Homo sapiens: one gene and its partners. The protein of the gene in region 6 purifies or fractionates together with the protein of the main gene of each other region. This does not show direct contact. Each region holds a gene or a part of one and is shown on either strand. Other genes may lie near its edges.

Region 1 (3,500 bases), on a different chromosome or scaffold from region 6:
ACAAATGGATGACTTACTACGAATTTTTAAAACTACCAAATCAATTTAAACTAGATGAGGAGTTAGAACAAGAGCAAGGAGGTAACAATATAATGATAATTCTAAAAATCTACTTCAAGTTTTTCTATTTTAAGATAACTAAACCACTAATATGTCACACACAAAAACAAAACTTAACATTTCCAGACCAATGTATTACATCACTCAACACATTATTAGCTGCAGCAAAAACAAGTAGAGCAAACACTTAGGAGGAGGTGAGGTACAGCTGCTTGGGCAAGCTTAAAAAGACGTTATCATTGGTGAACGAGGAGGAATAAATCTGTCAATGGTAGGCACAGGAACTCAAAACAACAAAGCAATGTGGGGCCGTTGAGTACAGGGGAAAACGATTTTACAATGGGTCAAAGCCCCTAAAGAAATTACCATGCCATAGACAGACGTACTAAAATACAATATAGGAAAAACCAAACTATAATAAGCAAACTACTCTAGGAAAATTAGGAAGTATTAAATACATTTTCAAAATATGTGCCTCAAAAGTAGTTGACGCTTTTAAACTGTGCTTAGAAGTTTCAATTACCAGGAAAATTTACTAAGAAACCACATTCCCTAGAAATGCCAGAGGAAAAAAGTATTTTTGTATATACCATACTTACATTTTCACTAAGAACATTTTACGTTTTACTTGTATTCAAATGCAGGTATTTTTAAAAAACAACTTACCCAGAGGGCAAAAAAATAAAATAAAATAAAATAAAATTACATTAAATCGACAAGCACTTACCTGAACATTTTTTTGGCCAATTTCTTATTTAACACAATTTATTCATCAATATCAGCAATGTTGCTCTGGGCTACCAGTTCATAATAATAGTTTTATTGTAAAACAACTGCTTAGTTAGCACTTACGGGGGAAAAAAAAAAAAATCACTGACCTGAATTCCATGTTAGTGGAAAATAGTAGTCCAAATGAAATACATGCAAAAGATTTCAGAGCAATCCTCAAGCAACAAAGTAAAAATAATAATACTGAGATCTAAAGATATTTGTCAAAGTAACTACAAGATTAAATGATAAATTCTAGTTGTAATAAATGATAGCACTCTCCAAGCTGCTTTAAAACATAATTCCACAACAAAGATAGAAAATGAAAACGTACAATAATTGCACTTACGATGTAGGAAGCAGTCATATTTAAAACATCGCCTACAGAAAAGCGTATGAAAGGAGTGTAAGCTTTGCTCTCTCTGAACAGATTTAGCATTTGGTCCATCTATGTTGGGGGTACATTCAGGAGGAAGTGCGCCTGGGAGCTGCTGTTCGGTGAGTTCTTTATATCTGACATTAACCAAGAAAAATTTAAGTAAACATGAAACAAAAATCACTTTTTTGAAAACAGTTTCTAAAAGGTTTCCATGTGTTACTTTTGATGTTTATCTTGCCTAAAACATAAAGGAATGGCTCTATTTAGATAAAGAGCCAACTAAATATTGTGCATGGTGTTATCAAGAATCAAATTCATCGATATGATTCAAATATATCATGGAAAAGGATATTATATTAGTTTTAACTAAACATCAAATTTCTACCAGTATCCAGATAATTTTCCTGTAAATGTACTACTGTAAATTTTATGTATATGTGTGTGTTTATGTGTATATATAAATTATACATATGTATTTATTCTATCTACAGGAAATATTTTGTAATGCAGAGTACCACAAGTACACATGTTGCTTCAAGTATCTTGCAAACACTGTAAACAAAGTGTAGTGGCTCATCCGCTACATTGATTCCATTTGTAATAAACCAAAATGGTGAGTTACATACCATACAGGGCAAGATTGCCTCAAAGGAACAAATTCTTACTTTTCCTTTAGTTCTTCTGCTGTGCCCTTATCTGGAAACATTGAGGAAATGGCTTCAAAAATTTTATCAGAAGGAAATTTCCGAGGTGGGCGGCTTTCTTTATCTAAACAGGAGAATATGAAAGGAAAAAAAGAATGGAAGTAAACAAGTTTTTGATCTTTCATTTTCTCTACCCAATTATGTCTCTATAACAAAGCTGATTTTCTAAGAAATCATCTCTATTTTGTGTTTTACTTACTTCTCACATACTTTACATGTCTGTGGAATGCCAGTCAGTCAAAAACAAAATTCAAATTCAAATATGAAAAGCTTTAAGAGCACTGGGAAGCAGAAAACCTAGGTTCTACTCCCAGCTCTGCTACTAACTGATTTTGTGACTTAGAGTGATCACTTTACCTCTTGGGTCTGTTTACTCATCTGTAAAATGAAGGAGCTGAACTAGATGATCAATAAGGTCAATAAGGTACCTTTTTGTTATTTTCTCTTTTTTGAAATACGCTTCTTAGAAATTGCTATTTCACCCGCCAAATTATTCTATTCTATGCTGCCTTAGCATGAGCTTTGCCAAGTAGAGAACACCAACTATTGACTCTGTTTCTTCCCAATAGTGTAATCTTATAAGTTACTTAACCTCTCTAAATCTATCCCCTCAAATAGAAAATGGATCTGACAGGTGGGGCGCAGTGGCTCACGCCTGTAATCCTAGCACTTTGGGAGGCCGAGGCAGGTGGATCACGAGGTCAGGAGATAGAGACCATCCTGGCTAACACGGTGAAACCCCGTCTCTACTAAAAAATACAAAAAATTAGCTGGGTGTGGTGGCAGGTGCCTATAGTCCCAGCTACTCGGGAGGCTGAGGCAGGAGAATGGCGTGAACCCAGGAGGCGAAGCTTGCAGTAAGCTGAGATGGGGCCACTGTACTCTAGCCTGGGCGACAGAGCGAGACTCCGTCTCGAAAAAGAAAATGGATCTGATAATAACATCCATCTCATGAAGCCATTATGAGGATTAAGTGAGCTGGTGCATAAGAAGTGATTAGTACACAACTTGTACACGGTGAATATCAATGTTATATATTATAATGATGCCCAGTGAAGCACACAAAAAATTACGTTCTTTGCTAGCCAAAGGAAACAAAGATACTCAAGTGAAGATAATGTTGCAAGTATTATGCTTTTTTTTTTCTTTTTTAAGGCAAGGTCTCACTCTGTCACCCAGCCAGACTGTGCAGTGGCACAATCACAGCTCAATGCAGCCTACACCTCCTGGGCTCAAGCAATCACCCTGTCTCATTTTTTTACTTTTTAGTAGAGATGGGGTCTCACTATGTTGCCCAGGTTGGTCTTGAACTCCTGGGCTCAAGCAATCTGCCCACCTTAGCCTCCCAAGTGCTAGGATTACAGAGTTAGCCACCCTACCTGGCCATAATATGTTAATTTTGATTATACTGCTATCAATGTGATATTTAACAAAGAAAGAAAAAGAGAAAGAAGAAACTAAGCCCTATTTCTACTCTTTCTACTGTTTTTGAAAGAAAGCTGTAATGGCTACACAGAATCCTAATAATCAGGCATACCATCTCGGTGATCCTCCAGATCTTTCTGCTTTTCTTCTCTTTCTTCAGGATC
Region 2 (3,500 bases), on a different chromosome or scaffold from region 6:
TTGGACTGAAAAAATAATTATTGTAATTATGTTTGGAATCAAGATAAACTGCTTGAAAGAATGAAAAGGTTAAAACTGAAATGTCTTGAGGGAGAAAAACCAACAGAACCTAAAAAGCAGAAACAAGAGAGTATGATTAGGAACCTGAAAGAAATCAATTATAAAATCAAACGGAAATTAAAGTGAATAGCTTTGGACTAGCTTCTTTCTCTGAAACAGGAAGAAATGAGGTAGGATAATAGAGGCTATACATATGTTTGAAAAGAGAAAGAAAATAAAGACAGGCCTGCAATTCTTTGTGGAGGAAGATTGGAAATGAGGGCATGGTAGAAATGGAGAAGAAAGACTGATCAGAGTGGGGACATTTTAGAATGGCTAAATGAGACTGATAGGCAATAAATACTCAAGGTCCAAGAAAATAAAAACCATAAACTTATACTGGCACCAATCAGCACTAGTATTTAGTTTTCTGAAGTAGTACTCAGCATTCTGGGTTCAAGAACGAGGAGTGGATAGTGAACTTATCTATGGTTAGAACTAGCAGATGACAAGGGAGCTTCTTGCTTAGAAGAAAACTGTGCAGGTGAAGATCATGATGTCAAAAAAGGAAATAATGCTGGGAGACTGAAAAACCTGGAAGAAACGAAAAGAGTTCCAATAAAGGCCACTAAGAAAATGAAAAGCATTGTAGAGAGCCACTGAAAAACCTCCATTTCACAGTCAAATTTGTGTTATAAATAACACTTTGCAAAAATGTTAAGAAACTTGGAAGGGGCCAGATCATAAGAAAGGAGGCAAATACAGAAGCACAAAATAATCCATGCAATAATAGAAAAATACTAAACTAGGGTGATATGGAAAAGAGAATAAACTCGTAAGTAAACTTATTGTTTACAAGTATGCAGTACTGTCATGAACATCTTGAGTATACCTGAAGAGGAACTTTCATTCATTGAGGTAACACTAAGGTATGCTAAGTAAAAATTATGAATTCAGTTTTGGATATTCTCAAGTAAGAGGTATGAATAGGATTTTAAAGTAAATGAAAATACGGATTACAGGCTTCTGGGCTAGAGGTTAAGTATTTGAAAATATTCAGTTTAAAGATACCAGGTAAAAACCAGTAAGAATCAAACTGTCTAGGAAGAAATGTTCAAATTTTAATAAGGAAGGACAAAGGAATAAAAAAGCAAAGAGGATATTATCACGGGAAAAAATGTCTTTCAAGGCAAGTCAAGATTTTTGAGGAATGGTCAACAATGTCAAGCACAAATCAAGAAACTAAAACTAAGCCTCAGAATTGGCAATTAGATTCACCAGCAGAGTGTGTCAGAATCTAAACTATAAAGGGTTAAAGCAGTATTAAAATATGTAGACTGTATTCAAAGTAGTATTCACTTTAAAAAAACAGAGCGGCAAATCTATTTTTTCTCTAAGTTTGATAGCAAAAAAGGTGACAGTTACATATATACATATGTAAAATATATAACAAATCAAACCTAAAGATATATCATTTATAATTTACATAGTGTTATATGTATTGTGCATATTATACATGCACATAAAATACATACCATAATTTTAAGATTTTGAAGCTATTTAAGACATTCAAAAATATTTACTGATTTGGAAGAGAAAGTCAAAGGACAAGAAAAAAGTATGTTTTAAAAAATATGTAAGATCTGCTATGTGCCAGATACTGTTCTGGGTACTGAAGACAGAAAGAAAGATTAAGACACTGTTTTTACCCTACAGGAGCACACTGTGTAGTGGTATTCTTATTTAATACATTGTTATTTTAACTTTTTGAGATTTCAATACAATTAAATGAGTTTAATCCATATAAAGCATTCCTAACAGGGTCAGATACGGAGTAAACATTCACTGTTAGCCACTACTACTATTACTAAAACTGAATTTAAATTTAAAGCTCTGTGTAGGTACTGTTTAAGTCAAGTCATAGTTTTGAGAAGTTTCTTAGAAGATACGGAACGTGAACTGGGACTTGAATGACTCCAATATAATGTCATGTTCTTTTTGTAAAGACCCCATCTATAATATAAAAATGCTGTGAACAAGGAGCATATTTCTTTTTTTGGTAACTAGCAGAGTACAATGCTAGTCAAGTGCAGAATAAACATACACTGAGTAACTATTCTGGTCTTCACCTCGCTTCCAAGGTTAAATTTTTAAAGGTGTTGTTAACATAACTAGATAATGACATCATATTATGTTAATTCATATAATACTTCCATTTGGCTTACATAGACACATAAGATATGGAAGTTATAGTATTCCATATTACACATATTTCAAATGGATATCTGTGCCATAATTACAAAAATTAAACAGACATTGCTATGGTTTGACTGTGTCCCCCTCCAAATCTCCCATGTTGTAATTTAATCCCCAACGCAACAGTGTTGGGAGGTAGGGCCTAATAAGAGGTGATTAGGAAAAGATTACTGTCAGTATCTCAGGAGGAGGTTATCACCAGTGAGCTTGTTATAAAAGAAAGTTCAGTCCTGTCTTGCTCTCTTCTCTTGGCCTTCCTCCATATAATGACACTGCAAGAAGGCCCTCAACAAATGCTGGCCTTGACCTTGGACTTGCCAGCCTCCAGAACTCTAAGAAATAAATTTCGTTTCTTTATAAATTACCCAGTCTGTGGTATTGTTGTAACACAAAATGGACTAAGATAGATGTTTAGTACATTTAATCACCTGATAAAAAGTTTTCCTTATAGACTCTATTCACAAGCCTAGAACATACCATTTTTTCTTCATAGGTAGGATCTGGTTCTTGGATTTCCTTTTGCTTTCCAGGTGACGCATCATCAAATATTTCCTGGTAGAAAGAAATAATTAAATAGAATTGGTCTTCGAAAATAGTAAACATACCATTATAGACCAATTTCTGACCAAAACACATCTTAAATAATACATTCTCACCCCAAACTTCCTAGAAACTTAAACAGCTGTCATCTAAGCTAACAGAAAAACTGATAAAATGATATTAGATACTATGGGGATAACAACGTATTTAACCCATATATATAAACTGTATGGTTGTTGCCAAGATTAGAACACAAGATTATCTTCATCATCCTAAAAGAAAACTACATTTAATACAAGCCAATCTGTTTCTCTTTTTCTGTAATAACCATGAAACCAAACTAAATAGTATAAAATGTGGGGAAAAGTTCCCCTTTTGTCATAAAACTACAGTATCTACTGTGCTACCACACAAATGTCTACAAAGAAATCAGAATTAGTCACCCTGATTTCCACCTTCTGGAATATTACAAAAACTTTATCTCGCAGCCTAAATTGAATACTCTAACTACAGTCTGATTCCTAAACTAGTAATAAATGTTATTCTTGCAAATATATTTATCCTGACATTCATATGTCACAAGCAACAAAAAACAACTTCTACACTGCAAAGTTCTATTCATCCATTAAAAAAAATTGGCAGAAGTAATCTTCATTAATGATGCA
Region 3 (3,407 bases), on a different chromosome or scaffold from region 6:
GACGGAGGTGTGGGACTGACAAGGAGGCCCAAGGGGGCCTGGAGCCCTTGGAAACAGGAAGGACATCCTCTGTCTCCTTGGTCGCATTCCACTCGCATCTGGGGGAAGCGGACAATCCCACCCCAAAAGACCTGCAGTGCTGGGGCAGAGCTTTGCAGCCTGTCTAGTTGATAAGACCCAGGAAGCCAGCTTTGCACTCCGTGGGCCAGATCAACTTCAAAATTCAAGAACGAGAAAGTAAAAAGCCACAGTGTATAGTGAAGAGCTCGTATGGATGCCGCTGGCTCACCCAAACAGCAGCAGACAGGACACCCAGGCCAACGGGAAAACCCAGTCTCATAAGGTCCCTGACAGTGACACCCAGGACTCCAAAGCCCTATGATGTTTCCAAGGACAAGATTTAAGGCTGTGTCAGAAATATCTAAGCTTCAGGAATTCCTGTCCCCTCCTCCCTTACCAAAGACCTTTCAAAATACCCACTCCTCTATGACACCAAAGACTTTTTAATATATAAATTAACTGCTTTATTGAATATCAATAAACTGTACATATAACTATACAAAACGTTTCCTTGATACAAAATGTTTGAAATATAAATACCAGTGTACCTTTAAAAATGTAAACATCTTCCTCCCAGGCCCACCTGTCGGGCCCCCAGAATAGTTCTGGGAGACACATCGGTCAGACCAGAGCACCCCACTTGGGCCCCCGACAAGTGACAGCCATTACTCACAGTCCCTTTTCAGACATTGTTAAATTGCCCGGGAAACAGGTGCCACCCCACCAAACAGGAGGCTGAAATAGCTGCCTGGGCTCGGGGCATCTCAGACTCTAGTCTGCCACCGCCTCCGCAGGCCCTGGGGCTGCACCTGGGGGTGGATTATTGCATAGTTAGTCACACCTCGTGGAGGGTGGCCTGAGGGTTCCTTGTGGGGGGGTGTGTGTGAGGGGAGTGGGGTCCCCTGAGTGGGGTGGGAGCTTCCCAGTGAGTCTGTCAGCCTTTGTCCTGTAGCTCAAAGCAGCTGTATCCAAACAGCTCTGGATACAAAAACCCACGCAGACAGGCCAGCTCAGGAATCCCCCAGGGCTGGGGGCCAGCTGCCCTCCCTCCACAGAAATGGCCATGGGAAGGCCTCTTCCAGAGCCCAGGCAGAGGACACAGAACCAGAAAATGGTCTTCATCAAAGTCCTGTGGGGCTGATGTGGCCAGAAGTGGGGCACTCAGGAGGGAATTCCATGGCAGTGAGAAGGATGTGGGGTCCTTCCTGCTGGAGCTGGGGAAGGCTGTCAGGCAGGGGCAGGTATGGAGAGGAAGAGGGAGCCTCGAGGGTCAGCGGGGACATCCTGAGCAGCCGGACTCTTGGTGCTTGTGGAGCAGGGACATTCGGGAGAAGGTCCGAGCACACGCCTGGCACTGGTACTTCTTGACATCTGAGTGGGTCTGGAGGTGGGCCCGCAGGTTGGAGCGGTCAGCGAAGGCACGGCTGCAGTGGGGACAGGAGAAGGGCTTCTCGCCTGGGGAGAGAACGCCAGAAAGGCCGAGTGAGCCGTGGGACAACGGCTGGCAGTGATGGGAATCCCTCCCCGCATACCCCAAACCCTGAAAGAATCCCATGATCCCAGGAAAGCCAGGCCTCCGTCAAACACACAGCCAGGGTCCAAAGGCCGGGACCTGACGGAGCTCTGCTGCTTCCCACTGTGCAACTCTGAGCAAGTTGTCTGGCTTCTCTGAGCCTCCATTTTCCCACCTGTAAAATGGGGCTATTCACCCCCCACTCATAGGGGTTGATAAGTGACAGAAGGTAGGGTACTCATCCACATCCCGCAGGGACGTGCGAAGTGGTCAACAATGACTCAACACCTTTACTGATTCATCCTACTGTCACTTGATCCTACTGTGGTCTCATTTCAGAGACAGTGAAACTGAGGCCCAGAAGTAGCATGTTCAGGTTCCCCTGGCAGGACCCCAAAGCCTCTGATTTCACCTACTGCCCTTACTGCCTTCAGTCAAGGGAGGACGTGACTGGTGTCCTTACCATCAGTCCTGGAGTCATTCCTTGATTTACTCTGTTGGGGGCCAAAGCCAGAGTCAGCCTTAAGAGGCTTCCCCACCCCCACCTCCAAGCTGGTTAGGCCACTCCTGGGGCCCGGCCAGCAGCCTGCTTTCCTCACCACCCCACCTCCTGCGCTGTAATCCCAAATCTCCTTGTCTGTTCTCCAATCAGGCTGAGTCCCATAAGGGCAAGGGCCTCCTTTGAGTCCCTTCTGAGCCCCAGCCCAGGGCCTGGGCCCCTTTCTATCACCCAAGAGGCTACGGAAACCTGTGGCCCTGACACACCATCTGCCTGGCCAAGGCTGTGTTGGGAAAAGTCTTGCACATGGAGCTGGGTGCCCAGTAAATCCTCAACAAGCCCTTAGAGAATAAATAAGTCTGTTTTAAAAATTAAAGAGGCCTCAGAGGAGTCTGCCCCCTCACTCATGCCTCATAACAATCCCTGCTCCAACCAAAAAGCTATATAGTTCCAAAAACACCAATAATGTTGATTTGTTTTTTTCTGGGGGATGCAGCATTTTCCAAATAAAAGGTCATAACAGTAACCCATTAAACAAAAATCTATTGAGGCTGGGTGTGGTGGCTCACGCTTGTAATCCCATCACTCTGGGAGGCCGAGTGAGGCAGGATTGCTTGAAGCCAGGAGTTTGAGACAAGCCTAGGCGATAAAGCAAGACCCTGTCTATAATTTTTTTTTTAATCTACTGAGCTCCTACTAAGTGCTAGACACTATTCCATAATACTGAATAGTCTTTTTAAAAAACATGCAATTCTCCAATCCCCTCACGCCCAGTCTGATATGCCCGCAAGGTCAGGGCCCGCCTGTGAAATCCCAGCGCTGGATGGAATTTAAGAGCTGAGAGTGAATTCATTCCATCACCTCCTGGGTGCCTAGGGTGCCACACTGAGCTACCAGGGTAGGAGAGAGTCCAGAGGATGGCTCCAATGGGACCCATGCATTCAATAGGGACTTATGGAGCGCCTGAGAGCTGGACTCAGTCTCATGGGGCAGAAATGGAAACTCGCCACTCCAAAGGGTGGGGGACATAGAGGATTGGGGGAGGGGTGCCTGAGCACTACTCCACTCTGCCATTACTCAGCAGCCTCCACACGCCACGCCTGAAGGGTTTGTTGATTGCATTCTAAGTCTTCATGTGAATGAGAAGGGTAAGTTCACCCTTGTGAACTAAGGGCTGACTCTGGAGATCTGGAAAAGGGGCTGGAGTCCATTTGTAAGACCAGAGTTAGGACAGCACCTCCCTTCCCTTCCCAGGGCTGTTGGTGAAGTCCTGAGCACTACCCTCCTGTACAGTAAGTGCCCAAAGTGTGATGAGACCTGAACCCAAACAAAAGG
Region 4 (3,500 bases), on a different chromosome or scaffold from region 6:
TTCACCACATTGCCCAGGCTGGTCTTGAACTCCTGGACTCAAGTGATCTCATTCCAGAAGTTAACTGTTAAGGTGGGTTTTTAAAAAAAAACAACAACAAAATATGAAGTTAACTCTTAAGGTGAGTTTAAAAAATAACAAGAATAAAAAATATGAACACTGCTAAAAGGCAATGACACAAACATCAAATGGTAAATGATCATAACCACAGTTGACTCCATAACTAAATTCCATAGTCATAAAGGTTTTGAGTACCTCTGGGAAAATCTATTTCGATATCCAAATCTGGTTCATATGGTACATCAGGCATGCTGGACTGTGTCTCTGGGTCAGAGTTCTTCAAAAGGTCTGAACCAATTATATCTGTTTCAATAATTACACCTGAAATCAATCCATATTATCATTAGGAATCAAAACAGAAAACCCCAATGGTATCTGTATTTAATCTGGCAAAAGCAAGTCATTTAATTTTAAATGCAATATAAAAAAATACGTATAATGTCACAAAAGAAAAGGGCATATTATATATATAACTATCTCAAAATGTAAACCACTATAAACCTCATAATTAGTCACAAGCACATGAAAACTTTTAATCCTATAAATTTTACAGGAGGACTCCCTTCAAAAGCTAATAGGTATGCTTTGATAGTAAAACAACTTCAACAAGTAAAGTATTTCTAAAAGCAACTTTTTGTCAAAAATAAACTAATGAGGGTAGACAACTGTAGTTTTCAATACTCTTTGAATTTTGACCCAGGTTTCTCAGATTGTTCAATATATGCATATTAACAACTGCCTTTTAATGGTTCGATCAGTTGCTTTCAAGTGTTTTTGTGTTGTAATCATGGCAAGAAATGCATTTTATCCAGCACATACTGCAAGGTGATGGTGGGGAACAGAAAGACATCTGTATACACACTGGTTTCACAAAATAATACTTACCCTTTCTATGAGGGATTCACACTGTCATTTCTCTTACCCTATTCCACTTAGCTTTTTCTTTTCTTAAACAAAAACACTGGTTGCAACCCACTAATTTCACAACTCCTTACCACAGTGCTTCAAAAACACTGTCTCATTATTAAATCCAGAGAAAATTATAGTATTTTGATTGTCCTCTAGGGTAAGGGTAAGAATTAGCTCAAGGTTGAAATAGGACTTTGGGTATCAAGAGAGGGTTAAGGGTGGAAAATAAATATTCTAAGTGACTTAGAACCATCCACAACACACTCATCACGTTATACCATGTAGCGCAAGCACTGCCCTAACAGAGGTTAAGATAAACTCTGGTTTAGATAATGCAAATTATTTTATTAGTATAAGCAATAAAAGAAAACTAGGGGCTGGGTGTGGTAGCTCACACCTGTAATACCAGCACTTTGGGAAGCAGGTGGATCACCTGAGGTCAGGAGTTTGAGATCAGCCTGGCCAACATAGGGAAGCCCTGTCTCTACTAAAAAGACAAAAATTGGCTGGGCGTGGTGGCACGTGCCTGTAATTCCAGCTACTCAGGAGGCTGAGGCAGAAGCATAGCTTGAACCCAGGAGGCAGAGATCTCAGTGAACCGGGATCATGCTACTACACTCCACCCTGGGCAACAGAGCAAGAGTTCATCTAAAAAAAAAAACAAAACAAAACAAAAAACTAGGGATAACTATTACAAAATAAGAGTTTTGATCATCATTAGAGTCTACTACAAGTTATTATAGTTTTGCATCAGCACTACTCCATTAACAAGAATAATTTTGAGTTGATTTTACAAGTCAAATCCTGCTTAAAACAGAGACCAAAGACCAAATTCCTGCTTCGGATATCTGTCTGAGGGCACCTGGCTAAATACAGTGTAGATCTCTTAATATAAAAAACATTTTTGTTACAATGCTTTCCTCACCCCCACATAAGTTGAAACAAAATGATATGCCCTGGAAAGTACTGTAACAATACTTATAAATAACCAATGTTAACACTTATTCGCAAGGTATAATTTAGTGTAGCTCACTGTTGATGTTGGTTGTCTCTGTTTTCCCCTCGTCTTCACTCATCATATCCGTCATTGTAAGCAACTCTGTATCAAGAGCATCTGAAGAAACCTTGCTTTTTAGCTCCTCAATTGCTGCAGGAATCTTCTCACTGCTGTCCAATGGAGCAGGCAGAAAAACAGGAACTGGCACCTAATTAACCAAATCATTTTGAGTTAGGTTTACTAAACATTAAAAGGTATTTTTCCAAATTAAAAATTACTCTGACACATGATCTACTTTGTAATATCACACTGGATAAAAGCTTTGAAAAGAACACATACAAAACTAAGATGTTAACTGTGATAAGAAAGCCTAGAATACAAGCATCTACTTTTTGGAATTCAAATTAAAGAAAAAGAATTTTTGAAGTATTTCTGTCCCCCAGGGGACTATAATAGCCAAGCCCTGACACAGTGTTCTTCTAAGTACTGCAAGTGATTTGGGATAAAATAATATTTTATATGAAATTCTATGTTTCAGTTCTAAACCTTATGGCTTCACAAATATTTTTCTTTTTTTTTTTTGAGATGGAATTTCACTCTTGTTGCCCAGGCTGGAGTGCAATGGCGCTATCTCAGTTCACTGCAACCTCCGCCTCCCGGGTTCAAGCGATTCTCCTGCCTCAGCCTCCCCAGCAGCTGGGATTACAGGCATGTGCCACCATGCCCAACTAATTTTGTATTTTTAGTAGAGAGGGGGTTTCACCATGTTGGCCAGTCTGGTCTTGAACTCCTGACCTCAGGTGATCTGCCCATGTCAGCCTCCTAAAGTGCTGGGATTACAGGCGTGAGCCACTGCACATGGCCCACAAATATTCCTTTTGAAAATGAACCCAAATATAAACTTAATATGCACAGAGCAGGCACAGACATCCGCGAAATGTCACTCTCGAGGATGAACATATACATACTATACACAAAGCAATCAATCATGACAACAGAGATTCAACCAAATCTAAGTTAACTGTCGAAGAAAGGTAAAGATGGTTTTATTAGCTTCATTAAACTAGTAACTGCAACTAGAGTTATCCTCAGTATTCTAGGGGATTGGTTCCAGGACCACCTGTGGATGGATACCAAAGTCTATGCATACTCAAGTTCCACACCCCTACAGTCAGCCTTCTACACAGATTTCACATCCTCAAATAATTTTTTATTTTCATTTTTTTTGAGATAAGGACTTGCTTTGTAGACCAGGCTGCAGTGCAGTGGTGCAATCACGGCTCATTGCAGCCTCCATCTCCCAAGCTCAAGCAATCTTCCTACCTCAGCCTCCCAAGTAGCTGGGATTACAGGTATATGCCACTGTGCCTGGCTAATTTTTACATTTTTAGTAGAGACAGGGTGTCACCATGTTGCCCAGGCTGGTCTTGAACTCCTGGGCTGAAGATACGCCTACCTTAGCCTCCCAAAGTGCTGGGATTACAGGCAGAATACTGTATTTTCAGTCTGTGTTTGGTCACGGATGTGGAACCTG
Region 5 (3,269 bases), on a different chromosome or scaffold from region 6:
TCTGTTGCCCAGGCTGGAGTGCACTGGCGCAATCTCAGCTCACTGCAACCTTTGCCTCCCGGGTTCAAGTGATTTCTCATGCCTTAGCCTCTTGAGTAGCTGGGGCCACAGGTGTGCACCACCACACTCAGCTAATTTTTGTATTTTTAGTAAAGACGGGGTTTCGCCATGTTGGCCAGGCTGGTCTCAAACTCTTGGTTTCAAGTGATCCACCCGCCTTGGCCTTCCAAAGGGCTGGGATTACAGGCGTGAGCCACGTGCTGGCCTTAAAATTGTGTTTATAAGCCAGGCATGATGGCTCGATACTCGGGAGGCCGAGAGCTGGAGGATCAGTTGAGCCCAGGGGTTCAAGGCTGCAGTGAGCTGTGATTGCACCACTGCACTCCAGCCTGAGTGACAGAGCAGGAGCACATCTCAAAAAAAAAAAAAAGAAAGAAAACTAAAAAGTTAAATAAAACAAAATCAGAAACCAGAAACACAATAAACACTAAAACTCAAGATTGCAAAACACCAAATCTATATTTACACTTCCACATATAATAACATAACTTTAAGCTGAAATATATCATAAATAAAACAAGTAATGTCTACTGTTCGACAACTTAAGTATCAACAATTAAAATAAATCAAACTGGAATGAAATAAATACATAAACAAAAATCCAACGAATTGTACCTCTATTATATGTACTGTTGTCTCAAAGAAAAAAAAATATAAAACCAGTAGTATACCAATAGTTAATACTGATGGACACAAAAACATATTTTGAAGTACAAAGGGCTGTAGGAAAATAATTGGTATTTTTATACATTCAGAAATGTGGTTAAAAAGAGAAATCTGAAAGCCCAAAAAATTCCAGCATAATACAAATCGACTTGTTTTCAAATAGATTTGGTGATTCTTTTTTTTAAATACAGGTTTAAATTCCAGCCCTCTATTATCACATACCCCCTTTAAGATTTATGGTTCTAGTCACAGCAAGCTCTCTGTAACACTCATTGGATTAGGCAAAGATTGAGTCAATCATCTTGCAAATGTGTTAATCTTCAAAAATAGGCTATAAAAGTGCAAAACTATGAAAACAAAATCTAGATTATGTACATATGGCTCAGCTTGTGAACAGGAAAAAAGGTCAATAGTGTACACTTTCCTGATACAAAGCACTTCATTGCAATGCCAACAGACTGATCTCAAATGAGTTCTCCCTTGTAACACAGGAGCTAAGACTTCTATCAAGGAGGACATCTTACGTTGCATAATTTAAAAAAAAAAAATTTTTTCTAGGATTACCCTTGCTCTATGGAGAACAGCGAGGCCAGAAAAATGAACAGTGCAAATTTATTTTTGAAACAGTTTCTTAATAAAATATTTTGTGGTCACTAAGCCCATGTACTAATAAACTCAGCCATGGACAGCATATTAAAGAACAAAAGTTTAAAATATCTAGGAAGCCAGCTGGTGGCCATCTTCTCTAAAACCCAAATTGCATGTGCACTGAGAAAAATGTTACTGCTTCAAAACAACCAAAAATGGGAAAATAACTGAGGTCTAGAAACAGATTTTCTCTTTCTAGACTCCCAGCGGGCTCGGCCAGCAGTTCCTTATTCAAAATCAATGTGTCTATAATCAACTCTAGTATGTCCACAGTTCACCCAAATGCCAGATACATTAAGACTACCAAATACAAACCTAAAATGTTCCCCCCAAAATTTCCCTTAAAACTGTTCCCCAATACCTGCAATTCACAGATATAATTTAGCATTTTTGTTTTTATATACTAATTTAGGCAAAACCCCCCCGCCACTGAATCGTCCAACAAAAATGATTAATTTGACAGAAACAAATTTAAATAACTGCACATACAGTTTATGTTTATACAACGTGTGGCTGCTCTACAGAGAAAATGCTTGTCTGTAGACACACTCTCTTAAAAATCCTACAAGCCATCCCAACGCCCTCAGTCAAGGATCCTGGAGGTTCCAGGACAATCTGGAGAGGCGAGGAAGAAGGTGCCTTCCCCATCTGAGATGCTCAAAGTTGCGATAAAATGCTGCCAGCTTCCGAATGGCTGACCTCGATATCTGCAGCACATATCATAGAGGGTCAATACTTCCATTAACAATTTTAAGACAACAATAGATTTGGGTGGATTCAACATAATACAAAATCATTGACAGTTTAAAAAAAAAAAAACATACATTTTAAATGAAAGAGCACAATAGCAGAAACTGCTCCAAGTGATGAGCTGCATTAGAGAAAAGGAATACACACAGTATTTGAACAAGCAGGTTTACAACTTAGATATTTACAGATTTTTACCTGAGGTGCAAGCATTATATACTTTTCCCCCATCCCGCCCCACCCAACCCAAATGATTTCTTTTCAGCAGCGCTCAAGTATGCAAAAATTCCACTTCTTATTTGGTCAATTCTAAGAAAAATATTATTCAGGGACAAAATAGAGATTTCCAGTCCCCATGTATGTAAGTTCCAACTGTTCCAACTAGTTTGTATTGCTATTTGGTACAAAAGTTAACAGAACAACTTTACACAACTGTAGTGTTCCTTGCAGATTCCTCATATGTTTTATGTACAGTACAATCACAGCTTATTTCAGTAGCTTTCACCATTCGCTTCTCAAAGGATGAAGTAAAATTTAATTTCATGGGGAGTAAGCACTGACATCCACCAAGACCTAAGGAAAACAACATTTTTTAAATGATTAAGATCAAAACTGAATACAGTTTAGAAAATTCTTTCTTTAAAAAAGCGTAATACATAGAACCAAACTGACCTAGAAATGCAATGGGTTCTATTTGTTGTTGTTGTTTTTGAGACAGTCTCACTCTGTCGCCCAGGCTGGAGTGCAGCGGCACGATCTTGGCTCACTGCAACCTCTACCTCCCAGGTTCAAGCGATTCTCCTGCCTCAGCCTTCCAAGTAGCTGGGACTACAGGCATGCACCACCACGCCCGGCTAATTTTTTTGTATTTTTAGTAGAGAAGGGTTTCACCATGTTGGCCAGGCTGGTCTTGAACTCCTGACTTCAAGTGATCTGCCCGCCTTGGCCTCCCAAAGTGCTGCGATTACAGGCATGAGCCACTGCGCCTGGCCCTGGGTTCTATTTAAGTTCAACTTTTGCTATGAAAGTATTAGGAGAATGACTAACTAGATAATGCTGCGAACTTTGGAGCTACTTTTAGTAATTTAACTGAGATGACTTAACCAAGAATCAGAATTCAGTAAAAGGCAGTTGCCATGCACAAGAAA
Region 6 (3,500 bases):
ACTCCTACAGTCTTAAAATGGGCAGACACACAATAAGTAGTTGCTGAATGATAAATCAGTTGTGTTTATTTCCTTGAGTTAGAAACCTGGATGTCACGTAAATAATAATGGAACCTGGATGCCATGTAAATGCAGTAAAAGAAACAGGTTTTGTCTGCAGGTTCCATTTTAAACCAGCAATATACTATAGGCAAGTCTGGTCAATACAAGTTCTGGTCAGTTTCTTCTTTCAATTCAGAATTTCCATTTCAATTTTGAGAATCTTTGGGTCAACTCAAAGAACTCCTACATCTCAATTGCAGAGTCTGTATTATTTCATAAATTGTAATGGGATGTTAATCTTCACTGATACTAACTGGCTAAGCTATAGAGGGCAAGGTGGTAGAATTTCTATTGCAAAGATAAGTAATAATTACTATAAATACTCTTCCCAAAGAAACAGCAAATAGTTATCTTTCAAGCTGTAATCATTATCTTTCACCTAGAGTGTATTGTAAGTCTACAGAAATGATGTCATTAGCCACTGAAACAAGACTTCATATTGTAGTAATAAACAGACAAAAGATAATCCAAGTACAATTTTTTAATAAAGATAATTACAAAAGATGGAAAAATCAGCTCAGAAAGGCCAATTACTTCTTTAATAGATCAGTTTTTTTGACATAATAACTCACATCAATTTTAAATACTATCACATAAAGCATGGTGGAGAAAAGAAATTTTGCTTCATAATTAGAAAAACTCACAATAAAACTTGCCAAGAAAAACAAAAACGAAAAAGCCATTTGAAAATAAATACAGTCCATGCCAAAGTAGTATAAAATGAAGCCAGAAGTCTTCAAAAAGAAAACATTTTCCTTTCAATATTTTCTTTTTAATGATTTTCTGAAATTGGTGAGACTGTCAAATTCAGGGGTTGCTGAGCTGTTCTGATTTGGTTCTGTTAAAAGAGGCAATGTGAAATATTAAAAATGGCACAATCTTGGTTTAAATGCACTGACCTATTATATTGATCAGGTCCTGTAGGCTCATGCTAAGAAACACATTAATTGATAATGTCTTAAGTGTTTCTGGAGTAATTAATGCCTTAATTTTTCTAGTGATTTAATAAACTATTCCAAGTTATCCTGTAAAGGCTGGCACAAAATTATGTGTGCCCAAACATTTACATGCTTTCTGACACTAAAATCCTCAACTGTTTTTACTTAAAATTGTTTCTTAAATTTACCTATCTCACAACACTAAAAAAATCATGTACACAGAAATAAGAACACCATGAAAACCATTAAGTGCATATATAAAAGATAACAGCAAAAAAGGGTCTCAGATAAACTACGTACAAGAATACAAACTGACTGATATAGTTATACTGATAAACCAATAGGTAAGATGGCATATGTTGTCTTATGTACCAATACAAACTAAAATTCAGAGCACCTCATAATGATGTTCTAAGGTTCAGTCTAGTATTTCTGAAGTGTGTACACAAACACACACCAATAAACATGTTTAGTATTTTTATAGTATGTAAAAAGTACTTGATAAGGAACATCATTTACCCTTTGGTATCTGTTTTTTCACCACTGTTGTCCTTGGATTTATCTTCTTCCTTAACGTCTAAAAATAAAGATTGGGAAAAGATTAAAACCTATTTTGAAATATAAAATGTATATATATTATTTCAAAATATACTTTATTTTTAAAATATAAAAAGTTATGCAATCTTATTATTAATGAATTCGGTCTAAATAAGCTTTGTGTTGGGTGTTTCCTAAACGATGGCAGTACAAGCTATGAATAGTCACTGGATTGGGGTGCAGAGGGAGAAAAGGTGGCCCTAACTCTAGGTTTTGACCTATAGATTTAAAAAAAGCTTTCTGTGGTAGTATTTCATTTTTCAGTAGGCTGAAGAATTTTAACAACTGCAAGGCCCTATCGAAAGAGCCTCATCACCAAATAGAGAGTTTATTTTTTAAGCACAGAAAAGATAAAGCTTTTAAAAATGAGAACACCAAAAACAGACAGACAAGAAAACATAGTGAAAATGAAAGAAAAGAAAAAAAGTTAGGAAAATCCTACAGCTAAAGTTAAGTCGTCCTTAATTCAGTCATGGCTTGAATTTTTGGATGTCAATCAGTTACAAATATAGACTGAAGCCATCATTGTAATACATTGGGAAGTTAAAATTATAAATTTCTGTATGTAGCCTATTGAGGAGTGAATCCACAAGTAAAAGAACAGAACTAAATGTGTCAGATGTTATAGATTACTAACTCTCTAGTTTAAAAAAAAAAAAAAAAGCTGGCTTATTCACATAACTTCAATTTGATAGACATAGGAAAAATTGGATCATTATCTCTAAATCAGTTTTTCACATACTACAGGATCAAAATTAACAGGTTAACTAAAACGTGTGCTCATCACCATTACTTGCATTAGGAAATGCATCAAGTGCTGAGAATACAAATATTTAAGATACTGTGTTCCCTAGCCATGAGCAGCTCAGTCTAGTAGGGAGACAAAATCCTGTGAGGTGCTATAATATGATGTGTTAAATAAAATGGCAGAGGCATGTGTAAGTGTTCTGGGAAGTCAGATGAAAGGTAACAGATTCCGGTAGCAAATTCAATTGCCTAAAGCTAACACAGCGTTTTAAAGTAAGGCAATGTATCAAAGTATTTTTTCCTCCCTAACCCAGGTCCCAAATCCCCTCCTAGCTTTCCTCAGAGTTTTTAATGTTTTCTTCAATTTCTGAACAAAATCCATTATTTGACCTTTTTCAAAATGGCAAAACTGGTCTAAGGATATGTAACTCTTCTTTGTGTTTTCTCCCATTAAATAAGCTTTAGGTAGCTAAAAATTACCTTAGAAGTTCAGTTCTGACCATGCACTACCAATAGATTCATAATTACTTTGTCCTCTTTCTTAACCAATCTATATCACAATGCAATGTTCACTATTTTAAACCTATGTTATCAAGAAAATAAGGTTTCCTGTATTACTAAAGCAAATAGGAACAATAACATTTATATAAAAGCTTTAAGAGCTAAGTACCACTTATATGTAAGAAAAAAGAGTCACCTACCTAGCATACTTCCTCCTGATACCTGTGCAACTGACTTCTCGATAGCATAAACATTATAATGCAGCCCAATTTTTAAAATTTACAATTAAAACACAATTACCAAGAAACAAATCTGACCTGTTTTTTTGTCCTCTGTTTCTTTCTTATCTTCTTCAATTCTAGCTTTCTTTGCTCCTTTCTTATGATCAGCCACATTTCTTCGACCTCCTTCTCCTTCATCCTCAGAATCTGAGAATTCTTCATCACAAGCTATCCGCTTGTCTGATGCTCGAACTGCACAGAATATTTTAATAAATTTTGACAAAAACAGTCACAGGTTTTATAATCATTACAGCATACTCATACAAATGCACTAAGCAGTTAGTTACCACATTTAAACGTAAAGGGTAACATGCCTAATGATTTTAAAATTTGA
Region 7 (3,500 bases), on a different chromosome or scaffold from region 6:
CCATTGTTAGATGAGAAGATAGGGGTCCCACAAGGGTGGGGGAGTGCAGAGAAATGAAAAGCTGGACATGTGGGCCCCAGGGATGGGGGAAGGGATCAGGCCTGACAGTAAATACAGAGGGGAGATGTTTCCACTCACTGTGCATCGGGGACACAGCCATTCACCATTGGGAATGTCAGGCAGGGGAGGGTTTAGACAATGAATGTGGTAGGAGGAGATGCACGCGTCACAGCACAGGAGCTCCCCGCCGTCCTTGCATACGCGGCAGTACTCCATGTGATCATCCTCCTCCTCCTTCTCCCCTTCTTCCTCTCCCTCCTCTTCGTATTCTTCTTCTTCCTCCTTGGCCTCCCACTGGACCCCCTCCTTCTCCTAGGGGGCCAAGGATAGACACACAGACAGATGGAAGAAATTAAGGAATGAAACTGGAAGATACAGGCAAAGACAGGACACCTGAATCCTAGAAGTGCAGAGAAGACTGGTGGGAACTAAGGAAAAGGACACTCCAGTTTCAGAAATGTTGATTGTGGGAGAAAGGAATACATTAGGATCCTAGACACTCGGACATCTGTTACTAAGAAGTCCAGCCATCTGGGGGCAGGAAGAGGGTAAGTGAAACCAAGGGGGAAAGAGATGGGTGGGTTCCTCAGGGCCATCAGATGCTGGCATTAGGTACTCACACAGTGAGGGCAGCTCCATTTGCCCTCTGGAGCCCGGTCAAGCTCAGGATCAAGGCAGACGAGGTGGTAGGCACGAGGGCAGGTGTCACACAGAATAATTTCCCCACCCTGCTGGCACACCTCACAGTAATCCTGGTGATCCGTCTCGTAGCCATCAACCTCCTCCTCCCCGGCCACTGCAGGACAGCCCAGGACTGTCATATACCCCGGTGGAGGGATAAGGAAGCAGGGCAGGGGGAGATGGAGAGAGAGAGGGAGAAGGGTTGAAGAGAGAAGTCAAAATTGAAAATAAGAATGAGAGGACGGCCCACTGACAGGATCACACACAGTCAACACTCCTTACCCTTCTTCTTCTTCCTTCCTGGCCGGCCTCTCTTTAGTTTCTTGGTGCGGACAGGGCCATCAGGCCGGCCTGAGGCACTGTGGACACTGCCACTGTCCAGGTCTGATTCCTCAGCCTCTGGTTCAGGACCTTCGTCGCTCTGAAAAACATACTGCCCATAGCCCCGTGGCCGTCAGTGAGGCAGACTTCATTCTACGCCCTCCCCAGGCCTTTGGCTTCCTGTTCCGCCATCCCTCACGGATCCCTGTCTCTGGATCCTTGGCCCTCACGGATCCCTGTCTCTGGATCCTTGGCCCCCAGGTGTTTAGTAGACAGGGACGGGTCACTCACCGAGCCTCCTTTCTTCCTCTTGCCACCCAGAAGCCCTAGTTTTATTTTGAGTGGTGCCATTTTCTTTCCCCGAAGCTTCTTGCGTCCATCAGGCACTCGGGGGCTCTTACTCCGCCTCTTATGGCCTGGACCTGAATGAGGAGTCGGGGTGAGAAGAGGAAAAAGGAGAGGTCATGACATCCTGGAATTATGGAGGTCACAGGGGCCTCTGGATTCCTCTGTGGGCTGTGGTTTCACTAAGCCCCACTTCCTGGAAAGCATCTCTCCTCCAGCAATCAGGGCTGGGAAGGCGAGAGTTCCAGACTCTAATGTGAAGACATGCAGTTTGGAAGGTGAGATGACAGTTGTTGGAAGAGAGTTCCCTACCTTTGCCCTCTTTGGTTTTGGCTCTTCGGATGGGTGGGGGCTGGATATCAGCAGCAGGGGGTGGTGGAAGGGCGGGGGGTCCGGAGGGTGCTATGGGGGTGGCCGACGAGACAGCAGCTGACACCTGCTCAGCTACAGCTGCTGCTGCTGCTGCCGCTGCCGCCGCCACAGCAGCTGCTGACCCCTTGAAGGGGTTGTTGGCACTGAACTCTCTCCATTTGGCCCCAAGGATGGTCATCATCTTAGACATTGGGATCTTAGGATTCTTCTTAGCAATTAGGGGCCTGTAAATATAGAAGCAGAAAACTCGGACCCTTCACAGATGGTCTGGGAACACTGCCATCTCCCCTCATCAATTAAATCTATGTACATGCTAGGATTCCTGGGTGGTGAGAATATGTCCTATTAGGAAAAACAGCCATTTAAAAAAATAAATAAAAAGAAGTTTAAAAAAAGCGGGGAAAGAACAGGTTTAAAAAAGCATTAAAAAAGAAATACAGGCCAGGCACGGTGGCTCATGCCTGTAATTCCAGGCTGAAGCAGGAGGATTGCTTGAGCCCAGGGCTATGAGATAAGCCTGGGCAACAAAGTGAGATCCTGTCTCTACAAAAAATTAAAATAAAAAAAAATAATTAGCTGGGTGTGGCAGCACCTGAGGCTGAGGCAGGAGGGTGGCTTGAGCCCAGGAGTTGGAGGATATAGTGAGCTATGATCACACCACTGCAGTGCAGCCTGGGTGACAGAATGAGACCCTGTCTTTAAAAAAAGGGAAATAGGCTGGGCGCAGTGGCTCACGCCTGTAATCCCAGTACTTTGGGAGGCCAAGGTGGGAGGATCACGAGGTCAAGAGATGGAGACCATCCTGGCCAACATGGCGAAACCCCGTCTCTACTAAAAATACAAAAATTAGCTGGGTGTAGTGGTGCGCACCTGTAGTCTCAGCTACTCGGGAGGCTGAGGCAGAAAAATTGCTTGAACCTGGGAGGCAGAGGTTGCAGTGAGCCAAGATTGCGCCACTACACTCCAGCCTGGCGACAGAGTGAGATTCCATCTCAAAAAAAAAAAAAAAAAAAGGGGAAATAAAAAACAGCGAAATAAAACTTAAAAGCATAAAAGGTTAAAATAAAATCAACAAAAATGCTTTACTTTTGTATACTACTTTACAGTTCATAAAACCCTTTCACATACATTCCACCTTATCTTGTCCTCACAATAATACTCTTGAGTTGCTATGATTCTCTGCATTTTACTAGTAAGTTCCATGGGCCCTGAAGATGGGCTTCCGTAGGACGGAGTGTGAAAGAGTCAGACCATGCTGGTTCTGCTCTGGGGTGGGGTGCTCAACTCTTGTGCGGACACGGGTGATCCATGGTGCTGAGAAAAGCCCCAAGTTCAGCAGTAAGGTAGGTGAGACAACGTTACTAATGACAGTCACCAGTTACTGAATGCTCCCTAGGAGCCAGGCACTGACGGTACTGTGCTTTCCATTCATTATCCCACCAAACCCACACAGATTCCTATGAGGTATATATTATTATTCCCCGTTTATAGAAGAGGAAATTGAGGATTGAAGAAGTTCAGTCACTTGCCCAAAATGTAACCAGATGTGAACCTCAGCAGCTGCCTCCAGAGCACTGAACTGATATGTTAAAGTGCCTTCTCCCCAAAACAAAATACATCGGCACTATTTTTTCTTTTTTTTTTTTTGAGACGGAGTTTCGCTTGTTGCCCAGGCTAGAGCATAGCAGTGGTGTGATCTCGGCTCACTACAACCTTTGCCT

What was found.
Region 1: the proteins of HDAC2 (region 6) and EZH2 purify together in Homo sapiens (affinity purification with western blotting; 5 studies listed by BioGRID, with this or other methods). This does not show direct contact.
Region 2: the proteins of HDAC2 (region 6) and SMARCA5 fractionate together in Homo sapiens (co-fractionation; 5 studies listed by BioGRID, with this or other methods). This does not show direct contact.
Region 3: the proteins of HDAC2 (region 6) and SNAI1 purify together in Homo sapiens (affinity purification with western blotting; 5 studies listed by BioGRID and IntAct, with this or other methods). This does not show direct contact.
Region 4: the proteins of HDAC2 (region 6) and ZMYM2 purify together in Homo sapiens (affinity purification with mass spectrometry; 7 studies listed by BioGRID and IntAct, with this or other methods). This does not show direct contact.
Region 5: the proteins of HDAC2 (region 6) and ZNF217 purify together in Homo sapiens (affinity purification with mass spectrometry; 6 studies listed by BioGRID and IntAct, with this or other methods). This does not show direct contact.
Region 7: the proteins of HDAC2 (region 6) and CHD3 purify together in Homo sapiens (affinity purification with mass spectrometry; 12 studies listed by BioGRID and IntAct, with this or other methods). This does not show direct contact.

The regions. Positions count from the first base shown.
Region 1 is NC_000007.14:148,825,292-148,828,791, forward strand, and holds part of EZH2 (histone-lysine N-methyltransferase EZH2), read right to left. Parts: coding exon 3,449-3,500; intron 1,976-3,448; coding exon 1,873-1,975; intron 1,342-1,872; coding exon 1,163-1,341; intron 1-1,162. UniProt on the Homo sapiens protein: Polycomb group (PcG) protein. Catalytic subunit of the PRC2/EED-EZH2 complex, which methylates 'Lys-9' (H3K9me) and 'Lys-27' (H3K27me) of histone H3, leading to transcriptional repression of the affected target gene.
Region 2 is NC_000004.12:143,516,702-143,520,201, reverse strand, and holds part of SMARCA5 (SWI/SNF-related matrix-associated actin-dependent regulator of chromatin subfamily A member 5), read right to left. Parts: intron 2,848-3,500; coding exon 2,773-2,847; intron 1-2,772. UniProt on the Homo sapiens protein: ATPase that possesses intrinsic ATP-dependent nucleosome-remodeling activity.
Region 3 is NC_000020.11:49,985,980-49,989,386, reverse strand, and holds the end of SNAI1 (zinc finger protein SNAI1), read right to left. Parts: intron 1,516-3,407; coding exon 1,331-1,515; 3' UTR 501-1,330; downstream 1-500. UniProt on the Homo sapiens protein: Involved in induction of the epithelial to mesenchymal transition (EMT), formation and maintenance of embryonic mesoderm, growth arrest, survival and cell migration.
Region 4 is NC_000013.11:20,059,727-20,063,226, reverse strand, and holds part of ZMYM2 (zinc finger MYM-type protein 2), read right to left. Parts: intron 2,175-3,500; coding exon 2,003-2,174; intron 382-2,002; coding exon 256-381; intron 1-255. UniProt on the Homo sapiens protein: Involved in the negative regulation of transcription.
Region 5 is NC_000020.11:53,566,571-53,569,839, forward strand, and holds the end of ZNF217 (zinc finger protein 217), read right to left. Parts: intron 2,695-3,269; coding exon of another isoform or gene 2,546-2,694; 3' UTR 501-2,545; downstream 1-500.
Region 6 is NC_000006.12:113,940,149-113,943,648, forward strand, and holds part of HDAC2 (histone deacetylase 2), read right to left. Parts: intron 3,359-3,500; coding exon 3,203-3,358; intron 1,618-3,202; coding exon 1,560-1,617; intron 941-1,559; coding exon 910-940; 3' UTR 1-909. UniProt on the Homo sapiens protein: Histone deacetylase that catalyzes the deacetylation of lysine residues on the N-terminal part of the core histones (H2A, H2B, H3 and H4).
Region 7 is NC_000017.11:7,891,789-7,895,288, reverse strand, and holds part of CHD3 (chromodomain-helicase-DNA-binding protein 3), read right to left. Parts: intron 2,004-3,500; coding exon 1,720-2,003; intron 1,485-1,719; coding exon 1,354-1,484; intron 1,175-1,353; coding exon 1,024-1,174; intron 875-1,023; coding exon 681-874; intron 373-680; coding exon 139-372; intron 1-138.